Regions from separate parts of the Homo sapiens genome. Here region 1 is linked to region 2. Evidence: fine-mapped expression QTL. Tissue or cell type: whole blood. Region 2 holds a variant in brackets; the other region holds the start of a gene. All regions are shown on one strand. Distances are between the middles of the regions.

Region 1 (8,177 bases), 27 kb after region 2:
CCTTCCACAAAGAACAGATCAAAGGAGTGAGCCCCTGAGGGCAGGGACCGTGGAATCCATCTTTGTACTCCTTGCTACAAATGTGATGCCAAGTAAAAGAACCCAATAAATGCTGTTGCTAATGGATTCACGCATGCATGCACACATGCATTCACTGTTGGACAAATATTTACAGATGTGCCACTGTTCTAGCCGCAGGTGATTTAGCAGTGAACACAACGAAGTCCCTATCCTTAAAGCAGCTTACATTCTAAGTGGGGACAGGCAGATGATAAACAAATAAAGACATATTGCATCAGGCAGCTATGAGCATCCTGAAGATAAATAAAGCCAGGTAGGGGAAAAGGGAGAACCCCAGGGAGGCGGGGAGAGGGGTGTGCTGGCTTAGTTGGCCATGGTCTTTCTGCAGGAAGTGAGGGGCTGAGCCATACACAGGCAGAGGGTATGGCACTGCAGACAGAGGGAGCGGTCAAGTGCACAGGCTTTGAGACAGGTGTGTGGGCAGCTTCAAAGGCCAGCAGGAACAGCAAAGTGGCTGGAACAGAGTAAACAAAGAGGAGAATATATCACATATGAGGTCAGTTCTTGCAGAGTTTTTTAGGCTGTTCTTAGGACTTCGGATTTTATGTCAGTGAGATAGGAAGCTGCTGGAGGGTTTTGAGTGAGGAGTGTCATAGTCTGGCTTATGTTCTAAAAGGCTCACGCTGCTTCTGTGTGTACACCTGGGGAACAGAAAGCAGGCGAGAAAGGGTGAAAACAAGAAAGATCCATTTTGAAGCTGCTGTAATTGTCCAAGTGAGAGAGGAAGATGGATTTTTTTAAAACTCTCCATTTTAGACTGAGAAATAAAAATTTTTTATCTGAGAATCCAAGCCCCCTTTAATTATCAAACCCAGAGAGGCACCGAAATGTGACAGCGTGTGACAGCGATCACGTCTCACTCCCCGCCTGAGCTAAATAATCACCTCTTGAAGCCACTTGCTATGTGGGCTCAAGACTAACTGATGCTAAGTAGCCATAAAATGACATATGCTTGACACCATCACTCGTACTCCATAGTTCAACAGTGTAGAGCAATCACTATCCAATGTTATCTCTGTAAACCAGGGAGGATTCCTGTCAAACAACTTTGTATCAGCCCACTTCCTTGTTCCTTTTGCCTTTGAAAACCTGCTTGTAACAAAGGCCAAACAGAGCACTCCCCAAGGCAACTTGGAAGTGTGTCCTGGGCAGCTGTCCTCCACCTTGGCTCAGATATTAGGTCGACAAGACCACGGCTGTCTTTCGGTGTGAGGCATATGGCTTCTTCTCACTCCCACTCTAACCTGGAGCTGCAATCCCTGCTGAAAGAATTGCCCTCTAAAGGCCTAAGGATCTCAGCAACAGGGAAGTGGGAGGAATCTTCATGCCAGAGATAAAGAGCTGGTCCATGGGCATGTGTGGGAAGCACTGGGGTAGGGCGAAGAAATCTATCTCCTGGGAGGTGTTATCACTACATAAATCCCAGATTTGATCAGGCAATGTAGCCATCTCACTATTTCAGGCTGCAGCTGCTAAGACAGGTGTGAAGTGGGCAGACAAACAGGAAGAAGGTCCCAGGTGGAGAACCTGCATTTGGCTTCTGTACCCCAATTCCAGTAATTAACAAAGCAAAAACCTGCCACACTGTGAATGATGGCCCTTCCCAACCAGAATCCTGTTTCTGACAAGTGGTGAAGACACTCTAAAATGCACCGAGTGTATGACAAGGACAATCTTCTGGATATTCCCATTTAAACAGGGATGGGCCGGATGCAGTAGCTCATGCCTGTAATCCCAACACTTTGGGAGGCTGAGGCAGGAGGACTGCTTGAGGCCAGGAGTTCAAGACCAGCCTGGGCAACATGGTGAGACCCCTTGTCTCTATAAAAAACACAAAAATTAGCCAGGTGTGGTGGCGCGCACCTGTGGTCCCAGCTACTCGGGAGGCTGAGGCAGGAGGATTGCTTGAACACAGGGGTAGAGGCTGCCATGTTCGTGCCACTGCACTCCAGCCTGGGTGACAGAGCATGACCCTGTCTCAAAAAACAATAAATAAAATAAAACAGGGATGAACTGGAGAAACTGTGAAGGTATAGGTGCTGTCTTGCTTAGGGGTGGGGATGATTTACGGAAGGCTAACACAAGGGCCTTGGTTAGTCTAAAGATAATCACGGCAACTAGGTGGTGGTACCAGGAACTAGTCCACCAAATCCCAACCTGCAGCCAAAAAGTCTCAACTCTCACCTATAAAGGGATCCTTCTAAATTCTCTAGATGTATGGAAATCTTTGACAGGTCTTCTGAAGCCTAGAGTCATCGTATAAACATAGATAAATAGTGTAGATATTGCATAGCTATAGATTGATATGTACATATACCATATACATTAGATATATGCTATATATTTACACTTCTTGGCCTTTCGGCTTTATTATCTATCTCCACAAAGTAGGACAAGACAAGCTTGTTTCCCATTTAAGTTTTTCTATCTGTACTGTTTTGCAAATCCACCAGAGAGTTGCAGGACACTCCTGCTACAGAAAGATTTCTGCCAGGCAGGCTCAGAGACCTGCTCTGTTACTGTTCTATTTAATAACACAAACACACAAATGGGGGCCTTTCTTCCCCATGACTTTCATGGCATGGCTGGGGGCAGAGCTGGGAGGTTTTCACGGCCCATATATCCTCAAACTGCTCCATTTCCCCCCGATCTCAGTTGCCACCCCACTAACTCCGGGGTGATCAGCTCCATACCACAATCATCTCCTGGTGATAGAGTTCCATGGATTTTAAAAGCTGTAAGAAAAACTGAGACAGATTCAGAAGAGATTCTAGTAACCCCAAACCAGCAATTACAAATATTTTTTAAGTATTTATATATACACATTTTTTTTTGAGACAGAGTCTCACTGTTGCCCAGGCTGGAGGGCAGTGGCACCATCTCGGCTCACTGCAACCTCCAACTCCCAGGTTCAAACCAATCTCCTGCCTCAGCCTCCGAGTAGCTGGGATTACAGGCACCTGCCACCACACTTGGCTGATTTTTGTAGTTTTAGTAGAGATGGGGTTTCACCATCTTGGCCAGGCTAGTTTTGAACTCCTGACCTCGTGATCCACCCACCTCAGCCTCCCATAGTGCTGGAATTACAGGCGTGAGCCACTGTGCCTGGCCTAATTTTTGTATTTTTAGTTAGAGACGGGGTTTCACTATGTTGGCCAGGCTGGTCTCGAACTTCTGACCTCAGGTGATCTGCCCGCCTTGGCCTCCCAAAGTGCTGGGATTAAAGGAGTGAGCCACCACACCCAGCCACAAGTTTTAGATACTTAAAATACTTTTAAGTATCTAAAATTAGCACCTCTCTTTAAACCTTTTACTCACCCTTTCCTGACCCTTTCCTTGTATCCCCCATTCCCTTTCGATTTCTTCACCATCCCTATTTGCCTCCTTTTCCTCACTATCTACCCACCAAGTCCTGCTCTGCTCCCATCCCACTTAAGATTTTCGTGTCTATTCTGTATCACCCTTAATGATCCACTGAGGCTGTGAGCTTCCTGTTTACCCACAAGCGTTCAGCGGATCCAGCCATCCTACCAAGGGTTAAAGATGCTGTAGTCCTACTGTGCTGCCTCCGACCCAGTTCCTTCCAAAACAAAGCAGGATGACAAGGTGACTCCACGAGAACTGCGTTTGACCTCTGTGTGGGTTTTCTGTTTCCAAGGCCACAGCAGGGTACTCTGAAAACTCTAAACCAGAAGGAAAGGAGACCTAGCCTTCAGAACTCTGTGTGTATGTGCTTACAGGCAAAAAAAAAAAAAAAAAAAAAAAAAGGAACCAATGAGGTTGTCAGAAGGGGATACTCTGCTGTAACTGGTGTTTACCACGACCCACCGGGTGCTGAGGAGGAAGTGGTTGCTATAACCCCAAGGGGGAAACGCTCGCTTGAAACAGGAAAATAGAACTCTTACAACTTTCCATTAGCAGCGTTCAAGAAGCCGGCCACACTGGGAAACACTTGCACAAGCACTCCCCAGAGTCCTGAGACGAGTGTCAAGACAGTCCAATCACGAAGCACAGATCAGGACACAGATACAGGTCCATGTTTTTTCCAGAACGTCTCAGCACTGGAAAAACTCTCATGATCACTTCCCTTACCTCCAGCAGGCTGAACTTGCAAGGAGCTGTGGGGAGGAGGAAGGAAGGGGAAAATGGCAGGATGACATATTGGAAAGAACGCTGGGCCCAGTGAGGGTCAGAAGACCTGGGCTTTAGTCCCAGTTCTGCGATTTACTAGTGGTGGAACTTTGGGCAAATTACCCAACCTTCCTGCTTCTCGATTTCTACTTCCTCTATAAAACAGGGATATTGTTTACTGCTCTGCTCACATCCTTGGGCTGCTGTGAGAATCCTATGGAATCCTTCATAGGATGAAACTCGTATGTGCTACGCAAATGCTTGTTATCAATGTAAGATTCGAGTCTGCATAAAGCCTTCTTGAGTCCCAGCCTCTTGCTCCTCAAACGCATCCTCTCGGCTACACTTCCACCTGTGCACTTCCTCAACCCACCTTACTTGTAATTCTGCCCACACTTCTGTAGAATTTCTGTAGAAGATCCCATAGTCTGGTCAGAGGAGTATAAGCAAGTCTAAATAACCAAAGTGGGGGGATCTCAACCAAATCATTTGACTCTGGGCTCTGTGCTCCCACATTCTCTCCTCTCCAGAGGTGAAGACTTCATCCTCAATGGCTAATTTGCCTGCTTGGAGGCTCAGATTGGCCCGTGTTCTGAGTCATATTTTCCATTTAGTAAAATGAACATCTGGCTGCTGTATGATGCCTTTTGTGTACCATCACCTAAGCCACAATTACCTGCAAGGTAATTCATACCACTACAGCACGGTGCAAAAACAGGGTTGGTTTGGGATGGTGAAAGTCAGCCATCTTAGTGTCAATCTTGCATGCAAATTCTAATGAAGAAAAGCCACTACCAGCAGGTCCACACACACTCACAAAGAACTCATAAATTATTTTAATCCAAGCGTTCAAAGGGATCCTGGGTCCCAGGAACCATCCTGCTGTTTCATCTCAGTGAGAGGCAAGATGGTTAAGGAAAAACAGCTCTAGTTTCCTCCATCCCCCCAATTCCCCTACCGGTGTGACCTTGACTAGGCCACCCAACCTTCTAAAAACCTTGGCTTCCTCATCTGCAAAATAGGGATAATAACAAGACATGCCCTTCCCGGCTCCCAGGGTTATTATGGCAACCAAGTGAGAAAACAGATGTGAAAGTGCTTTGCAAACCACAAAACACCGTCCAAGTGTGAGGTATTGTTATCTAGCAAAAGTGCCTTGAGAATAACACAGAAATCTGGAAGTATTTTAATTCGTTAATGGACTTATACCACACCTTGACTTAAAAAGGACGTAGGGTAACTGCCTGGAGGAATTCTGAAATAATTTCTAAATAAGTTTATCCAAGCAAGTTGCCAAAACAATCCACTGAATTGGGTAGTAGGCTTTTGGATAATAGGAAAACTGCAGATCGCTGTTCTTTATTCTTATTTCACCTTTTGAGCTCTAAAAAGAACTGGAAGGACCATATTGTGTTGTCTTTTACGCAAGAACTAAACAGTCTCTTTGTACCCTCCACACCCTCCCTATTCTCACTTCCATCCCCTGAGCACCTGGGAAGCAGCTCCTTCTCCAAACCTGCAAACCCTCCTCCCAGAGCCCAGGCTAGCTTGGAAGCCTGGAGCAATTTGAAACGCCGTCCTAAGATCTTGAGGCCAAAGGCATCCCCATCATCCTTCCAAGAGGGTGTTACCCCCAGGGACAGCAGGAGTTTCCAGAACACACAAAGACTTATTCTGCTCACAAGGATATTTACCGAATCAGCCCACAAGAATTTGCCAGGATCAGGGCAGAAGAACAGAGCTGGGACAGCCTTCTGATTCACTGCCTGGCAGATTCACCCTTCTCTATTATTAGCAACCCAGGCACGATGCCACCAGGGCTGGGGAGAGACCTTGGTGTCAGGGTAGAGAAGGCAGGAAGAGGTGTGTGTGCAGAGGGGGAAGTACACAGAGCTGCCTGAGGTTTCCTCCAGAGAGAGACAGCAGAGGGGTGGGTTAAAGCCTTCTCCCCTTCCTCCTTAGTTCTCTAACCTCCTGTGAATCTCAGACAAGCCCAGCCCCAGGATCAGAAGCCCTGGAACCCACATCCACCCTGAATATTGCTGGAGGTACTCCCTCTTCCCCTTAAGGGCCCAGCTCAGAGCTGCACAGCACTGCTTCTGCCGGATACCACTGGACTCTGGGCTGTGCCAGAGGCTGCAAGATGGAGAAGCAAAGAGAAACTGACGGGAAAGGTGGAGAATTTCTCTTCCCATGGCAAAAATGCAACTTACTGCAGCCCTAATGCACATGTGTTCCCTCCTCATAACAATGACTACCACTGAAAGAGCACCCATTACATACATCACAGGGCGTTCGCCTCCTGTTATAGGCAGGAAAACAACCATGTGGAGGCTCAGCAGGCTGCCCTGGAGAACGTGGCTAATGCTGATTGAGAGGGACAGGACTGAAGGAGGAGACGAGGAGCTTCACCTTCATGCATCTTGTATTATTTCACTTGTACAGGTATTTCGCGTGCATTATTTAACGTGCTATATCAAGCTTGTACAGGCATTACTTGAATACATTGAAAACCATGAAACGAAGGAATTAAAAAAAAGAAAGACATGTTGCCAGTCAATAGTAGAGTCTAGATTTGGATAGATTTGTCCAACTCCAGAATATACTCTCTGGCCACACCTCCACAATTTGTCCAAATACCAAACCAGGACATGGACGCTAACAAAGACTATTTTTCTAATGTTATTCATGTGAAGAATTTTACAAAATAACCAATAACCAAATAACATTTGGTTATTAAATATGATAAATGTGGCCTATGGAAAATAAAACGACACAAAATGAAAACTGGCTGCCATGCAAACTTAGGAGAGGGCAAAGGAGCCACAGTGACCCCAGACTTGCTTTCCCTAAAGGGGGAGGAAAATCAAATCCCCTGCAGATGGCTGCAGACCTCAAATAGAGTGCTGCCACTGAGGGCAGAGGCCGAGCCCCTGGAGCAGGCTGATTAGTCTAGTCTAGTGGTTAGGAACATGGTCTCTGGAGCCAGGCTGAGTGTGAATTCTGGCTCTGTTCTTCATAGCTGTGACTTCAGGCAAGCTTATCTGTGCCCCATTGGTTTCCTCACCTGTGAAATGAATTTGGGACACTGTGTAGATTAAAATGTAAAGTGTCTAGCACTAAACACTACCTAAGTGTTCATTATTATTATCATTATCAGTCCTGGCCAGAGAGAAAAAGGGAGAATTATCTATTCCAAAAGGAGCCAGGACTGGGATAAGGCTTTGGTGAGCTTTTTACGTGGTCTTGACAACGGTGTTCATGATAGGCTTATTCTAGGCCGCTCTCTGCTGTCAGGAAGGAGGTTTCCTGTGTGAAGAGAAGGCCTCCCAGGAAGTGACAATAGAGGTATCAATACTCCCAGCAAGAGAACCACAGGCCCAGAGTGGATGTCAGAAAGAGGGGCATCTCAGGGAGCACGCCTCTGCGGAGGGCTACTGATGAGGAAGAGACCACATGGTTGCCTAGAAGGCAGGCCTGCGGGGAAGCACTGACGCCAGCACTCAGGCTAGGGGAGTCCCTGGGGTCAACTTGTGCAGAGACTGGCGCTCATATCCCAAAGAACTGGGTGCCTCTCTAAGATAGAGCTCCCTGCCTCCCAGTATCTCTTCCTGCAGGTGTTTTGTTCCAATGGCTGACAGCGTCTATTCAGAATTCTTAAAAATGTCACTTTGTTTCCATCTGTAAAAAGGAATTAAAATGTACCAAAATTCCAAAGAAAATTGCCCCTTTTCAGATGTGGCTCCCTGTCTCCCCTCTTCCCTTTTCTGCTTTTGATCTTATTTAAAATCTCTGACCTAAAAGTGAACTCTGATATTCCATGCTCCTGGAGTTTTGGGAGGACCCTGACTTCAGAAGCAGAACTCTTTGAGTTCTTCTGGTTCCAGCTCTGCAGCTAATTTGGAAACCCCAAGAAAGTTGTGTCACTTCTGTCTCAGTCCAGAAAGTGGAAAGATTAACCACAT
Region 2 (8,177 bases):
CTCCTTTGAGACAGGCCAGCCCAGGGAGCCAACAGGTGGCAGGCGAAAGCCACCCAGAGCTCCTAGGTGCTAGGGGCGGGCTCTCACCTGCACTCCCCAGGCCCCTGGTCCCAATGTCAGGAAGACAGTGTTGACTCTCCAGGACAAGTCACAAATCTCAGAGCATGCCCCAGAGCCACTGAGCACATGTCGGCGGGAGCCAGAGTCCCAAGAAGCCCCGACGTGCAGACGCCACCAGCAACTGCATCACATTCTCCTTAGTGCCACCCTTCTGCCCCCGCCATGCCCAGCATTGTTTGGTGACCGGCCCTTCCCTTTCTCTGTGACATGTCTCAAACTCTCTTGCCCTGGGACTCAGCATGTGAGGTAACCCTGGGCTCCAGCCTCCTCACCCTGTCATGGAAAGGCCACATTCTAGAGGTGACCATGAGCAGCCAGTCTTGGGAGAGGCCCTGCAGCCAAGGGTTCTGGATGAACGCATTTGGGGGAAGGCACAGTCCATGGCCCAAATGGAACTAGCCTGGCACCCCAGGGAAATGCCATGGAAGCTGGGTCCCACACAGCCCCCTTGGGAAGGGCTGGGCTGCAGCTGGGGGCCTGATTTGCAGTCAAGCAAGCCTGGTGCAGAACTGCACCAAGCTGCTGCCTGGCTGGGTGGCCCTGATGAGTCACTGAACCTCCTGGTGACAGAACCCTCCTGCTTACACTGGAACATGACCCATCTCCCAGAATGGCGGTGAGAACGCAATGGGATAAATAATGGAAGCATCTAGCATAGCCCTTGGAACAAGAAGGGTCCTTAGGATTTGTGTGCAGGAAAGATCGGGCTGGGTGCACCCTGCTTCTGGGGAGACCTTCCTCTTCCCCTCCACACATACTCCTCTCTCATCCTCTTCCCTCTGCCTGCCAAGATGGGTTACATGGGTACCAGCCACGGTCACTCTAGATCTCTCTTGAGAGCACTAGGGTGCAATCAGAGAGAAGCTGCGGAAGTCAAGCGGCTGGGTGGGGGCAGCCCTGGGGCAGGAAGCGGGGCTCCTGTCCCCAGCAGGAGCAGGCAGGTTCTGGGGCAGCCTGGCCCTGTGCTTGGCTGGCTGTGTCTTTGGGACAGCCGACTTCCAGAAATGCCCAGCCAGTGTTCTTCACACAGGCCGTACTTTTTTGGCCAGGTCTGAGTGGACACCACTTGGATTATTCTCCATGTGGTCACCTGCGAAGTCCTGCTGCTGTCTGGGTTGGAAGGAAGGGCTGGGCCTCCCCTGAGAGGACACATTCTGGTGCACCAGTGGATGCCATCCTGGGTCAGAAATCAGACTCGGGAAAAGCAAAGGCCTCGGGCTGGCTGGGGGCATGTTCTTTCTCCTCCCTGCCCTATCCCAGGTCCCTGTGGGCTAAAGATAGTAAGGAACTTGGATGGTGGGAGGGAGGTGGCCAGGGATGGCTCAAGAGCAAACAGTGGGGCCTGTGCTTCTCCATCCCCCATTCTTTCCCTGTGAGTGATGGCGAGAGAACACAACAGTCAGTGGCAGGGTGTGATTTTAGGACAGAACTCCCAGGAGGAGAGAGAAGAAAGGAAAGAAGGAAAGAAATGCTGGCTGGCTTAGCTCTCTTCTCTCCTGGCCTCTGTCTCTGTCTCTCTCTCTCTCACACACACACCCCTCTTTCTCAATCTGCTCTTATGAGAAATAATCCGGTTAAACCAGTCACAGTGGACACAGCCTTCTGCTCTGAGCTCTGAGTCTCCGTGCCTGGCCTCCCAGACAGCCCTGCAAGGAAGCATGGGGGGGCTTGGCATCTGGCCGTCCAGCCCGGGTGCTGCAGTGAGGGCCAGCCCCACAACATGAGCACCGCACGCTGGACACCATGGGGGCCGACAGCCTTAGGGAGGTTCACCAAGCCTGCACAGGGGAGAAGGAGCCGTGCTGTGGATGACTCAGGGTGGAAGGGCAGCAGTTTGAGAGGTAATGAGAAAACCCGGCTGCCTAAAACTGAGCCCCGAGATCACAGCAGCCGGCCTCAGGCATCCCTGTCTGCTCTCTGCCCTGCCTCCTCAAGCCCCCTCTTCCTCTCTCCTCTTCCCTGGAGTCCTCTCCAGGCTTATCCCCTGGGCAGGTGTCAGGGTGAGCCTGAGCCCCTGTCAGGAACCTGGGGGTGGGAGCCAGTCCTGCACACAGGCCCAGTGACTGCTCCGGGCTCACCTGGGGCCCTGCGGTGACCTGCCATGTGGGTTTCTTGAGTTCCGTCAGGGGCTTCCTCCTCCTTTTAGGCAGATACAGGTCTTTTTTGGGAAACCAGCATGTTCTACTAGCCACTCTCTCTTCCCACTCACCAGGGCTGGGGAAATGGAAAGACCTCGATTCCCATCTCCCCTGCAGCTCACACAGCAGGAAGTCACCATCCTGCGACCTCCCTACCTGGTGGCTCCCCGCACCCCCAGCGATCCCACCTGAACCAAGGGCAGCTCTCTCTTCCTTCTCTCTAGGGGGCCTCAGAACCCAGCCGGTGCCCTTTTTCTGGTTCCGCCAGCCCCTGGCTTCTGCTCACTGGAGAAGGAAAGGGGCCATCATGGGCAAAGCCCAGGTCCCGGAACCCTCTGCAAATAATGGGAGATGCCTGGGGATGGGGAGGCTCTAATTGGTCCAACAGCCTCCTCAGCCTGCCCTTGCACCTGTGAGGCCTCCGGGAAGCCCTGAGTGCCACGCTGTGCACCTGCCATGTGGCTTGCACTGAGGCAGGCATGTGGGCTGCGAGAAGCCTGGCTCACCTGATTCCCATCTTGCAGTCCATCACACAGGGCGAGTCGAAGTCGGCCAGCAGGTCGTCCATCTGGTTGTAGCGCTCCCCGTCCTTCACCACATCCCCATGGTAGGCAGGTACGAAGGGCCTCAGCACATCCACCATCAGCCGGTCCAGGCAGCGCTGCTCTGACTCACAGTGCTTCTTCAGGATCCTGCCATTGGCAGCTGCCTTGAAACTCCCTGGAGAGCAAGTGTAGAAGGTTCCTGGTCTCCGGCTGCAGGTAGCTGGCAGAGGCACCCTCCCCAGCACAGGGTCTGGGCCTCCCTGGGGATGGCTAAGCCTGGGGCTGAAGGTGTGTCTATGTCCCTGCTATGGACTGAGCACCTTAAGGGGAGTGGGTTCAAGACCTAGTCCCCACTCACTAACTGTAATTCTGAGCTGGTTCCCCAGCTTCCTTGACTCCAGACTCCTCCTCACCAGTGTTCCCTGCTGGAAGGGTACAGAGCTAGGTGAGAGACTGAGGTGCCACGACCCAGTCATTCCTTAGTGTTGCTATTTTCATCCTCACCTCCATCATCAGCCCTGCTTCTCGGCAACGAAGGTGTCTCCTGGCCTCAGTAGAGAAACCCTGATTGGACAGGATTCAGAGCCAAGGTGGGGAGATACAGCAGGCTGAGAAGCTGGGGGGCCTAAGGCTCAGCCCACCTGGGTGGCACTTCTTCTGAGCCAGACCAAGTAAGTATTCACACAGGCTGTCCATCCATGTGCCTTGAGTTGGGCCAGTGTGGCCAACGAGGTAAGCGAAATGCGGGACCTTGTGCTGGCCTGAGGAGGCTGGTGAAGTCACGAAGGCCAAGTCCACAGGCAGCCCCTGACATGTCTCCAGATGACAGTGCTTCCAGAGGGTCCTACATGTGGGCTAGATGGCTCTGGGGCCTCGGCTCCAGATGTCCCTTCTCCCCGGCACTGCCTGGACTCAGCTCCTAGCCACCTTCCTCCCAACACCGCACACCGCCCTGCAGTTATGGGGTGGCTTGGCCGCATCTTCCACCAGCTGCAGGCTCCCTCAGGGCAGAAACTACATCTCCATTAATGCCGCAACCCCCAGGACCATGGCAATTTAGGCACACAGTAGGTGCTCAATGAAGGGGTTAGCTTTGCCTCTTTGTCCAGGGTGACAAATGGCAGGTAAGCTATAAAGACTGATGGCTTCATCTGTCTTATTGAATACAACGGGAAGAGAGACAGAAAGAAAGAGACTGGAAGAGACAGAGATAAGAGCCAGAGACCGAGGGAGGGGAGGATGCATGTTTTGGAGGATGGGGTAACACAGACTCCAGAGAGGTCCGTTGTCTATGGCATTTACAAGGCATTGGTAAGGCCGCAGCCTGCAAGTGTGGCTGTGATTTCAGACTAGAAAGTCTTGGAGGGAACTTGCTCTGGAGCTTTGATCCCCAGAATGCAGCGTCCAGGGCACCTCCCCAGAGGGCTGAGCACCATGCTGGGAAAGTCTGGGAGAGCTGTGTCTACCTGCGTGTCCTGCCAGCTGGATCCAGGGGTACTTCTTCTTGAAGGACATGACGAAGGGAGACCAGTGCACCATGTTTTTTATCTTCCTCCATGATTTGCTCTAGAAACAAACAAACAAAAAGCTCTACATTAGAAAGACAACCACTAATTTCTGGTTAGGACAAATTCAAAGCAAAGGCCCTCATTGCCTGTGGCCACAAGATGGGAAGGGCCCTTGACGGGCTCTGAGGACCTTGCCACCACCATCACCTATGCGGCACATGGTGGGAGGTGGCTTTACCCCATTTAACAAACAGCCTGAGCAAAATGCTCAGGGGAACTCCCCTGTCCCAAGAGCAACGACCCCTCCAAGGAAGGCTGGAGAGGACACAACCACCCAGCCGCACCACATTAGTTCATATTCAATTCGTAGATGCGGAGGCACCAGAGGCACCTCTTGCCTGCGAGTGGTTTGAAGAGAGACTTTAAAGAAATTCCTCAGAACAGAACCTGCACCGATGGCTTCAGGTCACACAGGAGGGAGCAAGCCCACAGCTCTCTCCTCTGCACCGCGCTCCGCCCTCTCAGGATGTTTCTTCAGTGAAAACAGCCAGGACTGGGAGTGTGCATGTGTGTGTGCGTGTGTGTGCATGTGTGTGTGCATATGTGTGCATGAGTGTGTGCGTATGTGTGCATATGTGATATATGTGC[A/ATG]TGTGTGCATGTGATTGTGTGCATGTGTGCATGAGTGTGTGTGCATGTGTGATATGTGCATGAGTGTGTGCGTATGTGTGCGTGTGTGTGCATGTGTGATATGTGCATGTATGTGCATATGTGTGCATCAGTGTGTGCATGCGTGATATGTGCATGTGTGTGATGTGTGCATGTGTGTGCATGCGTGTGTGATATGCACATATGTGTGCATGAGTGTGTGCGTGTGCATGTGTGTGCGTGCATGTGTGTTTGGGGAGAGCAGGCCCTTTGGGCAGAAAGGAGAACTAAGGTATATTGAGCATCTTATTTTATTTTCTCAATGAGCATGCAAGTCAATTCTTTTCTATTTCCATCTGGTGGAGCCTGAGCCTCAGAGAGGTAAATGACGAAGCTGGGATTTAAACATTCATTTATACAACTACTTGAAAATAAATAAAATTAATAAAATTCTTTTCTTCCCCAGCAAAAACAAACAAAACAAAACAAAAAAACAAAAAAAAAACATATTTTTAGAAAAAATATCCTTAAGTGAACTTTAATAAGAACAGGCTGCAGAGATGAAGATCAAGTGTCCCCAAAATACACCCGTCCTCAGGGGGGCGATGAGAACCTGAATGAGAAGCATTGTGAGTTCCTGAGAAAGTGGATCCTGGACCAGCTAAACCACGGAGAGCAGAAGCCATGTGGCTTGCAGAGGAGATGAGGGTGGTACTGCCTGACAGGGGGACACACTGAAGATGTGGTTCCCACTCCTTGCCCCGAAGCGCCCAGCTGCAGCCCTCAGGGGTCAGCGGCGGCTGCTGGGTCCCCAAGGTGAAGTCAAGGTGAAATCGGCCTCCTTTGTTTTTTCTCTCTTTGCTGAGACTCAGCCGCTTCTGTCATCAGGTTTTCAAGTTAAAATCTATTTAAGGAGAGGAATTCTTCCTTACTAAACCTGGTAATTCTTATCCCCATCCCAGAAACTCTCACCCCACCGCCAAGACCAATTCTATTCTTAAGAGAGGGCAGCGCCCCATGAGGCCATGTGACAAAAGGGCCGAGGCTTTACTGACAAGGATGTTTTTCCTAGATCCTTCTGATGGAGATCGCCAAAGAAGGCTAGAGCCAGCGGAGGCATTTCTTATCTAAGCACCCAGAAGGCTGCATAAACAATCAGGGCACACAATGCATGAGGGCAACAATGGAAAAACCTCATTACACAAGATGAGCCCAGCAGTGGCTCGTGGGGACGCCCCTGCTCAGGGGGAAGCCATTACGGTGGGTCCAGGGGGAGAGTGCACAGCCGGTCACCACCCGTGGGTCACATCCCTGCAGCAGAGCTCAGAGAGGACAGGGGCTGACAGGCTTCAGGGGTGGTGTGGGAGGAGGGGAGCCCAGAGTGTCTCAATCCAGGGCTCGCCCTAACCCATGCCATGTCCCTATCAGGGGAGAACACACATTGCACTGTTTCACAGTCCCTCCTGGGGCCTCAGTTTCCTGTGTCCGGTGAGGGACAGACAGCTGGTATACCAGGCTCCTTGGATGGATGGACACTCTAGGGCCCTGGAAAGTGACCTTCCCTCATCCCAACAGCAATGGCCCCTCCGAGGAAGACTAGAGAGGGCTACTCTCCCAGCTGCAGCGTGCCAGTTTATATTTTATGTATACAGGAGGAGGCAAATGAGCATGCATGGAGGAAGGGTCCCAGGACCCTAGAAGGCAGCTCACTGTGGAGAAGGAGGGAGCTTACGGAGGCTGCACCCACCAGAGACAGCTGGGGGCCAGACTCAGTGGAGAGAAAGAGAAGACTACAGCTGGCAGCGGGAGTGTGGGGACAAAGGCCCGGGGACTGGAACTGGGAGTGGTTGGGAACCAGACCTGCTATGGGCATGGGGGCTGCAGACAGAGGGAGATAGGTGAGCAGGCGAGGCCTCGGGAGAGCGTGGGGCGTTGAGGCAGGCCAACCTGGGCCCGAGTCCCGGCTCCCCTTTTCCTCCTCAATGACTGACCTTGAACAAGTTCTTAGTCCTTGTTTGTAAAAAGAGCGACACATAGATTCCCATTCTCCCAGGAGATAAAGCTGTCAGGAGATGTGGGTACCAGGGTGTCTGTGGGAGGGTCTTTAGCCCTCTGTGTTCAAGGAGGGGACCCAGGTGTCTCTGAAGTTACTTCAAGAATGGTCAGTCCTGTGCTAGGTGGAGTTGCTGGCCTAGGTTCTGAACAATAAAGACCTCGGAGCCTGGGGCAGGGTCATGCCCATCCTGTTGGGGTGCAGCTCTCCAGAGACCCACAAGACACAGTGAGCAGGGAGCCTGTGACCCAGGAAGGTGAACAGATGCTGGGCGAGACAGTGTGGCTTAGCCTCTGCAAGGCCATTTGAAGCTAAGAAACTTCCAGTTCTTGGACCTCTCCCAGAGGCTAAAGACCAGGGGTCTAGAAAGGAGGGGGTGCTCCAGGGTGGGGGTCTTCTGACAGTTCAAAGGATCCACAAGCCTCTCACATCGCTGAGCTCTGACCAAACCAGGCACCTTTACCGCTTGGCTCCCCTCTGCCCACACCTCCTCCATTTCTTCACCATGAAAATAGGTCCCACGTGGCCAAGGCCCTGAGAGTCCCCCAGTCCCAAGGCTGCTCTGCCTGGATGAGGGCCGTGGAATATTCCACTTGTGAGAATGCCATGCACTTGCACTGGAGACCTCTTTTCTCTCTGCCAGCAGCAGCACACAGGGTTTCCCCATGGTTTTTAAATAGCAGCACCCAGGCAGTGCCTAATGTCACTGCCAAGCAGTAAACAGAAAAAGCCATTTCCAGGTCCAGGCTGGGGGAAGGAGGGAAGGAGGGCTGCAGGGTGACCCCAACCACTCCAGCCTAGCCCCTAGGAGCAGAGATGAACTAAAGGATGGGAGGAGATTCCAGAGAATCAATGTCCTTGTGATGGTCGGGGAGACCACAGCATCTGCCTCAGGAACCAAATCCACTCCAGGCACACGCCGCTTTCCAGGAGCGGACAGGCTAACAGCCCTCCCTCCAAGCACTGGCTGGAGGAAGCCCCAGTCCTCAGAAATGGACTCCAGGCCTCATCCCCCAGATAAGACAGGTAACAAGGCAAGAAAGGAGGACAACCCAGAAGAATCCCACCCAGAGGGGTTTATCCCGTGCCCCTCCAGCCCTCCCTTGTGGGAGATATTCAAGAGTGAGCTCTCCACAGCAGCCTCTGTCTCTTCTCTGTCTGAAATCAG

What was found. PIP is the estimated chance that this variant, and not a neighbour inherited with it, causes the effect.
Region 1: ITPKB-IT1 starts here. The variant in region 2 is fine-mapped to the expression of ITPKB-IT1 in whole blood (INTERVAL, PIP above 0.99).

Annotation. Positions count from the first base shown.
Region 1 is chr1:226,671,305-226,679,481 of GRCh38, forward strand. ITPKB-IT1 (ITPKB intronic transcript 1) reads right to left here and starts at 3,764. Exons shown (of 2, transcript NR_103784.1): 1 at 3,613-3,764. The region is part of intron 2 of ITPKB (inositol-trisphosphate 3-kinase B); the gene reads right to left. RefSeq lists a silencer at 4,746-4,895.
Region 2 is chr1:226,644,403-226,652,579 of GRCh38, forward strand. ITPKB (inositol-trisphosphate 3-kinase B) reads right to left here. Exons shown (of 8, transcript NM_002221.4): 3 at 4,270-4,369; 4 at 2,765-2,978. Among named protein-coding and RNA genes, the nearest start is that of ITPKB-IT1, 27 kb to the right of the region's middle. RefSeq lists enhancers at 46-711, 2,378-3,269, 5,536-5,625 and silencers at 64-286, 2,057-2,257, 5,446-5,740. The variant A/ATG (reference allele first, on the strand shown) is at 4,960.